Homo sapiens: one gene and its partner. The protein of the gene in region 2 purifies or fractionates together with the protein of the main gene of each other region. This does not show direct contact. Each region holds a gene or a part of one and is shown on either strand. Other genes may lie near its edges. The genes, in order: KSR2 and SPECC1.

The links.
Region 1: the proteins of SPECC1 (region 2) and KSR2 purify together in Homo sapiens (co-immunoprecipitation; one large-scale study listed by IntAct). This does not show direct contact.

The regions. Positions count from the first base shown.
Region 1 is NC_000012.12:117,962,357-117,966,178, forward strand, and holds part of KSR2 (kinase suppressor of Ras 2), read right to left. Parts: intron 1-3,822. UniProt on the Homo sapiens protein: Location-regulated scaffold connecting MEK to RAF. Has very low protein kinase activity and can phosphorylate MAP2K1 at several Ser and Thr residues with very low efficiency (in vitro).
Region 2 is NC_000017.11:20,201,081-20,204,902, forward strand, and holds part of SPECC1 (cytospin-B), read left to right. Parts: intron 1-3,252; coding exon 3,253-3,822.

The DNA of each region.
Region 1 (3,822 bases), on a different chromosome or scaffold from region 2:
CTCATCTATCCTACAGCCTAGGGATTAGCAAGCTACAGCCCATGGGCCCAATATGACCCATCGCCTGGGTTTTGTTTTGTTTTGTTTTTTGGGTTTTTTTTTTTTTGAGATGTAGTCTCCCTCTGTCACCCAGGCTGGAGTGCAATGGTGCCATCTTGGTTCACTGCAACCTCCACCTCCCAGGTTCAAGTGATTCTCCTGCCTTAGCCTCCCGAGTAGTTGGGATTACAGGTACCCGCTGCCATGCCCCACTAATTTTTGTATTTTTAGTAGAGACGGGGTTTCGCCATGTTGGCCAGGCTGGTCTCAAACTCCTGACCTCAAGTGATCCACTCACCTCAGCCTCCCAAAGTGCTGGGATTACAGGCGTGAGCCACTGTGCCTGGCCACCATCACCTGTTTTTGTAAGGCCCAGAAACTACAGTTTGTACAACTATAAACATCAAAAAAAAAATCAAAAGAAAAATATTCATGACATGCAAAAAGTATATCAATTTCAAGTTTCAGGGTCCACAAATAAAGTTTTATTAGAAAACTGCCCCACCAGGCCCGGCTTGATGGCTCACGCCTATAATCCCAGCACTTTGGGAGGCTGAGGTGGGCGGATCACTGGAGGTCGGGAGTTTGAGACCAGCCTGGCCAATAGGCTGGTCTGAAACCCTGTCTCTACTAAAAATACAAAAATTAGCCAGGCGTGATGGTGCAGGCTTGTAATCCCAGCTACTCAGGAGGCCGAGACAGGAGAATCACTTGAAACTGGGAAGCGGAGGTTGCAATGAGCCGAGATCACGCCACTGCACTCCAGCCTGAGCAACGGAGCGAGACCCTGTCTCAAAATAAAAAGAAAACTGCCCCACCCATTCATGTATGTACTGCCCATGGCTGCTACATGCTACAGCACAGAGTCGAGTAGCTTTGATAAAAATTGCAGGGTCCACAAAGCCTAAACTCTTTACTATCTGTCCCTTTCCAGAAAAAGTTTGCCAGCCCCTGCCGTAGGCTGCCATCCAAGGCAGGCGAATCACTTGAGCCCAGGAGTTCAAGATCAGCTGGAGCAACATAGCAATACCTTGTCTCTATTTAAAAAATACAAAAAATTAGCCAAGCGTGGTGGTGCATACCTGTAGTCCCAGCTACTCAAGAGGCTGAGGCAGGAGGATCTCTTGAGCCCTGGAGGTCAAGGCTGCAGTAAGCCATGATCGTGCCACTGCACTCCAGCCTGAGTTACAGAGTGAGACCCTGCCTCAAAAAAAACAAAACAAAAAAGCTTATACTTTTCTATTGTATGCATTCCAAAACCTTTGAAGACTTCTATCTCCTTCCACAAAGGGATGAAACGTTGTTGGTCTGACTCTCTAATCTTTAGTTGGATCCCAGAAGTTAGTGGCCTAAATTCATTTCCTATGACAGGCTACCAGGTACCCTCCATTCTGGGCAAAATGGTCTCTAGGCTGCCCCATGAAGGCATTCAAATACCTTCATCTGGTTTGTTGTTCTTGTCCAGCATGCTCTCCCCTTTTGCTGCAATCTAAACCCTCCTCATCCTTCACTCCAAATCCCCATCTCCCCAACCAAGAAGGTTTCCCTGCTTTGCCAAATGTTTTCCCAGGTGTATCCTATGGAACAAAAATCCCAGGAGAAATCCTTGGGCCGGGTGCAGTGGCTCACGCCTGCACTTTGGGAGGCCGAGGCGGGCAGATCATCTGAGGTCAGGAGTTCAAGACCAGACTGGCCATCATGGCAAAAGCTCGTCTCTACTAAAAACACAAAAATTACCAGGGCATGGTGGCGGGCATCTGTAATCCCAGCTATTTGGGAGGCTGAGGCAAGAGAATCACTGGAACCCAGGAGGCAGAGTGAGCTGAGATTGCGCCACTGCACTCCAGCCTGGGTGACAAGAGCGAGACTCCGTTCTATCCTCTCTTGGAGGCCTAATACACATAGGTAGCATATTAAAGGCTCTGAGAAAAGTCCTGCAGTAAAGATGCCTGTTTCCCTTTGCTTAACTCAACCCTTCCCAAACTTATTAACCACAGAATTTGTTTTGTCCACAGAACACTTATTGACTACCAGCATTAAGTACAGTGCCTGGATGTCAGCATTTGTTGAAAGAATTAAAAACGCTAACATCCCACAGATTTAGGGTTCTACAGAACATACTTTGGAAATGCTACTCAAGCTCCTCCTTCTCTCTGTCCAATCTGAACTGCTCCCTTCCATGCCATCTAGTCAACACCATGTAATGCCAATCATTATCATCATCACAGCTGTCATTCATTTAGCACCTGCAGCCACTCTGTTCCAGATAGTGCTAGACCCTTGAAAACGTTATCTCTTTCAATCCTTATAACCATCCTCTGAAGTAGGGAATATTATTTAATTATTGCTGTTTTGCCAAAAACTTAAAACTATAAATCAGAAAACTTAAATCACTAGCCCAAGATAAAGTAAAAAGACAAGCTAGAATTTACAACTATATCAGTCTGACTCAACGTTCATGAACTTTCTTTTCCACCAAAATATCTTCTGACTATGTGCCATGGCTGCCATCGCTGGCTGTCCACTTACTTAATATCTACCTATGCCTCCTTCCACACTAGCAGAGCCCTGATTTTGCATGGAGTGGCAACATGTCATTTCAGGCAATGGATCATGATCCATCTAAGCCGATCCTGGTGGTGGTCCCACTTCCCCACTTCCCGGGCTCCCTTGCAGCTAGGACTCAGTTCTGGCCAAGAAGATATAATCAAATCATCTGCAAGGTGAGGAGGAAGAGATGTCCTGGGGAACCCTTTATTCCTTCACACTCACCAGGTCCTCCTCTTTCCTACCTTGAACTCAGATGTAATCGCTGAAGCTGCAGGAACCATCTTGCAACCATAAGAGAAAAGCCATGAGAATTCCCAAAGACATCAGCCCTGGTATTACTAACCTACTGAGCCAACTGAAGCAGCTATATGTCTCCAGAATTCTTGTTACATGAAGAGAAACCATTATTTGCCTTACTGCTAGGATTGGGTTTTCCATTTCATGCAGCTGAACACATGCCTAATGGGCTCACACATTGTCCCCCATATTATTTACCACTTAGACTTTATCATTATTTCACATACACATTATTATATCATGAAGTATGCTTCCTGAAGGCCAAGTCCACCTTGCATATTTTTGTTTCTACAGAAGTGTATACATGCTATTAAGTGCTGTTCATTATCACAGCACTGTTCAGGGATCATCTATTCAATTTATTACTTGCATTAGTGTTAGCAAGCAGTGAGTTTTCACCATTAAAGAGCTGAAATATCACATCTTTCTCCTAATGGTTTAGCATCTCAAAGTGTCCATTTGAAAACATGTATCAGAAATACCTGGACTGTTTATTAAACGCAGATTCCTTGACCCTCTTGCTAATCCCAGCTAAACTAGAATCTCTAGGGTTAGAGGCTAAGAATCTGCATTTTAACAAGCACCCTCATATGGTTTTGATATACAAAATTAGAAAATTCCGTGGACCCAAATGTTAGCGTTGGCTGGACTTGGCTGGACCCTAAGTTACCAGCCCCTCTGCAGGGGCCCTCCCTAACCCTGCAAATCTGGGAAATACAAATTGGAATAATTGCTCAAGAGCATTCCCTGGGCAAGATGGATGAAAGTGGTTGCATGCTCTGTAGCATACTGGGACAAGGGAACTGAAAACAGATGCATTTCCTACAACTGCAACTCCCCCATAGCCATCCTACCAGTGCCTCCATCCCCCCAGTTTAAAAGGAAAACCACTAGGCAGAAAGAAGGCAATGCCCACTGCGGCACATCCCCATCCAG
Region 2 (3,822 bases):
AAACTGTAGCTGGAAATAACAGCAGACTTGATCTGTTCTATATTAATTTTTCCAGCTTCAAAACCAACAAACAATTGAAGGTTTAAAAAAAAGAAAGTGGCTGGGCACGGTGGCTCACGCCTGTCATCCTAGCACTTGGGAGGCCAAGGCGGGGAGATCACCTGAGGTCAGGAGATCGAGACCAGCCTGGCCAACATGGTGAAACCCCATCTCTACTAAAAAAAAAAAAACAAAAAAACGAAATACAGTAAATTAGCCGAGCATGGTGGCTCGCGCCTGTAGTTCCAGCTATTCGGGATGCTGAGGCAGGAGAATCACTTAAACTTTGGAGGCAGAGGTTGCAGTGAGCTGAGGTCGCACATTGCATTCCAGCCTGGGCAACAAGAGCAAAACTCCATCTCAAAAAAATAAAAAAAGAAAGAAAAAGTCAGCCTTAATTTAGTGATGTTATTAAGAATAACAAATGCCAGTGTGATGATCAGTCCTGGACTCTCAGGTTTGCCTGTTCTGACTAGAGTTATGGTGAAACTTTAGTTATCTTCCAGTTTTTAATACGGTCCTTGCTGCAATGACTTTATTCTAGAGAACTAGCATTACTAAAACATTTTAGTGCTTAGTGGTTTTTAATACTTATTTCACAAGAATAATTAAATAAGTCTTTTCCTCGTTGAGTGTGTAGTATGATGCAGGTTAGGTATCTGTGACACCTATAAGTAAGGCTGACCCATGAACAACACTAGCTTGAACTGTGTGGGTCCATTTATATGGAGACTTAAAAAAAATAAATACATTGGAAAATTATTTGGAGAGTTGCAACAGTTTGAAAAAAATTCAGATGAACTGGGTAGTCTAGAAATATGAAAACAATTGAGAAAAAGTTACATATGTCATGAATGCATAAAATACATGTAGATACTAATAATCAGTTTTATCATTTACTACCATAAAATATACACAAATCTATTATAAAAAGTTAAAATTTGTCTAAACTTATGCACACACAGACTGTACATGGTGCTATTCATAGTTGAGAGAAATGTAAACAAATATAAAGATGCAGTATTATAACTGCATACAATTAACTGTAGTACATACAGTACTCCTGTAACAATTCTATAGCCACTTCCTGATGTTGTTGCAGTGCGCTCAAGCATTGGGGGTAGCTGCTTGGAAGGTACTGTGATGCTAATCATCTCTGTGGGAGCAGTTCCTCTCTCCAGTACACCTCAGATCGCAGTAAAAAGTGACCTCTTGAGATTCTTGAGTATGTTTTGTTGTGTTTAGTGCAGTACCACAAACCTTGAATAACACTATGGGACCCATACAAAGTGCCACTAGTGATGCTGGCAGTGCTCCCTAGAAGCCAATAAAACCCCTGACAGCATTGAATTGCTTGCTAGATTGAGGAATGGTTGCCTGTCGCTTCAGACAGATGATTCATTTTGCAAACAGACCATGTAAACTTATGGTATTGATAAATACAGTATGGTACTGCAAATGTATTTCCTCTTCCTTATGGTTTTCTGAATAACATTTTCTTTTTTCTATCTCATTTTATCTTAAGAATACAGTATATAATACATATAACACAAAGTGTGTGTTAACTGTTTATGTTTTCAGTCAGGCTTCCGGTCAACAATAGGCTATTAGTAGTTAAGTTTCTGGGGAGCCAAAAGTTATACACAGAGTTTTGACTGCATGAAAGGTTGGCACCCCTAACCTCCAAGTTGTTCAGGGGTCAACTATATTAAAAGTCTATGATATACTCTTGGCTTTCCAGAAACTTAATTTGAAGAAGTTAATTTAAAAACCATAGTTTTCTATATATTAATTTGACAGTTCAGCCTTTATTAGGTCAAAGTTTCAAAAGAGCTCAGCTGTTAGATGTTTAGTAATGAATGCCATCAGCCTTTATGTCATCAGGATTCAGGATGTTTAGGTGTGTGTTTGCTCAGGGCTCAGAAATAGTCTTGGTGGTGGGTTTACAGCTGCCCATCTTGTTAGGTGTGGAACCTGCCTTAGCGCTGGGGCTGCTGCCAGTCTATGGGAACATTCCCTCCCGTGCCCTTCCTACACTGTAGAGGCCTACAGGTTGATGACCACTTCTGGGACCCTTCATTACACCTCTCACTGAAAGCATGTAGAGTTGTGTAAGTGACAGCAGCCAGCCTTGACTCATCAAATAGTCTTTCAGTTTGTAAAAAAAAAAAAAAAAAAGTCCAGGATTTTATTTTACACTGTAACATCTGAGGTGGGTTTCAATTCTAGAGCACAATGGAGACTGATGTCTGGGTTTCACCCCTAGAATTGTTTTTACATTGTCTGTGATATAGTACAGATGAAAATAAAAGAGAATTATTTACACCTTACATTTGCTGTTACAAGTATTCTGTATTATGTCTATATCATGTCAAGTAACATAGGTATGTTCTTATTTCATTTATTCTTGTTTCTCCATGTACACAAATGAGTACATCATTTCCACTTACGGCAAAAGTGATATGTCATTGTATCAGATCCATCTCTCAGTATTATCTGTATCTTCTGATTTCTTAATCAAATTTATGCTGTCAAAATATGTTAATGATGTTTTTTAAAGTGTTTATTGAGAAATTCACAAAGAACTTGTATTTTGTCAAAAGGCCATTGTTTTTGTTGCCAACATTATCAGTGCAGATGTACTAAATTGCAAGTTACAGAAAACCCAGCTCAAGGTGACTTATAGGAAGGGTATTTACTGGCTTGCCTAACTGAAAGGCCAGCTATAGGCCAAACTTCAGGGTTGATTTGATTTAGCAACTTAACAATGCTATTGAGAGTTTAGTTTCCTTCTTCCTTCTCTGCCATCTGCATTCCCACCTTCCTCTTGAAAGGGCAGGGTGGTTGCCAGCCATTCCCACACCTACACATTTTCTCACTCTGGTCCCGTGGTGTTTAATAGCTTGCCCAGAAAACCTTCCCTTTGTCACATTGATCTTAATTGAGTTGTGTGCCCATGCGTGAACCAGCAACTGGCTGGGGATGGGGTCATCCTGAGTAGCTCAGGCTTGGAGTCAGCCTCACCCAAAGTATAGGGCTGTGGGGAGGAAGCACAGAAACCACAGTCAGAACTGGGTAATTAGCTAGAGGAGGAGGAAATGGATGAAGAGCGACAGCCACTGTCCACTGTGCCATGTGATTTACAGTCATTTGGGTTTTGTTTATAAGAATGCTTGCTTTATTTTTTCATTTTTTTCTTCTTCTGTCTTTAAGGGGCCTTTACAACAACTAAACGGACAGGCATTCCAGCCCCACGGGAATTTTCAGTAACTGTCTCAAGAGAGAGGTCTGTGCCACGTGGTCCCTCCAACCCCAGGAAATCAGTGTCCAGTCCAACTTCTTCCAACACTCCCACTCCTACGAAACACCTGAGGACCCCTTCCACAAAGCCCAAGCAAGAGAATGAAGGTGGAGAAAAGGCTGCGCTTGAGTCCCAAGTTCGGGAACTTTTGGCAGAAGCCAAAGCAAAAGATAGTGAAATTAACAGGCTTCGAAGTGAACTAAAGAAATACAAAGAGAAAAGGACTCTGAACGCTGAGGGGACTGATGCTTTGGGCCCAAATGTCGATGGAACATCAGTCTCCCCAGGTGACACGGAACCTATGATAAGAGCTCTTGAGGAGAAGAACAAGAACTTTCAGAAAGAGCTTTCCGATCTAGAGGAAGAAAACCGGGTCCTGAAGGAGAAACTGATCTATCTTGAGCACTCCCCAAATTCAGAAGGGGCAGCAAGTCACACTGGCGACAGCAGCTGCCCAACATCCATAACTCAAGAGTCAAGCT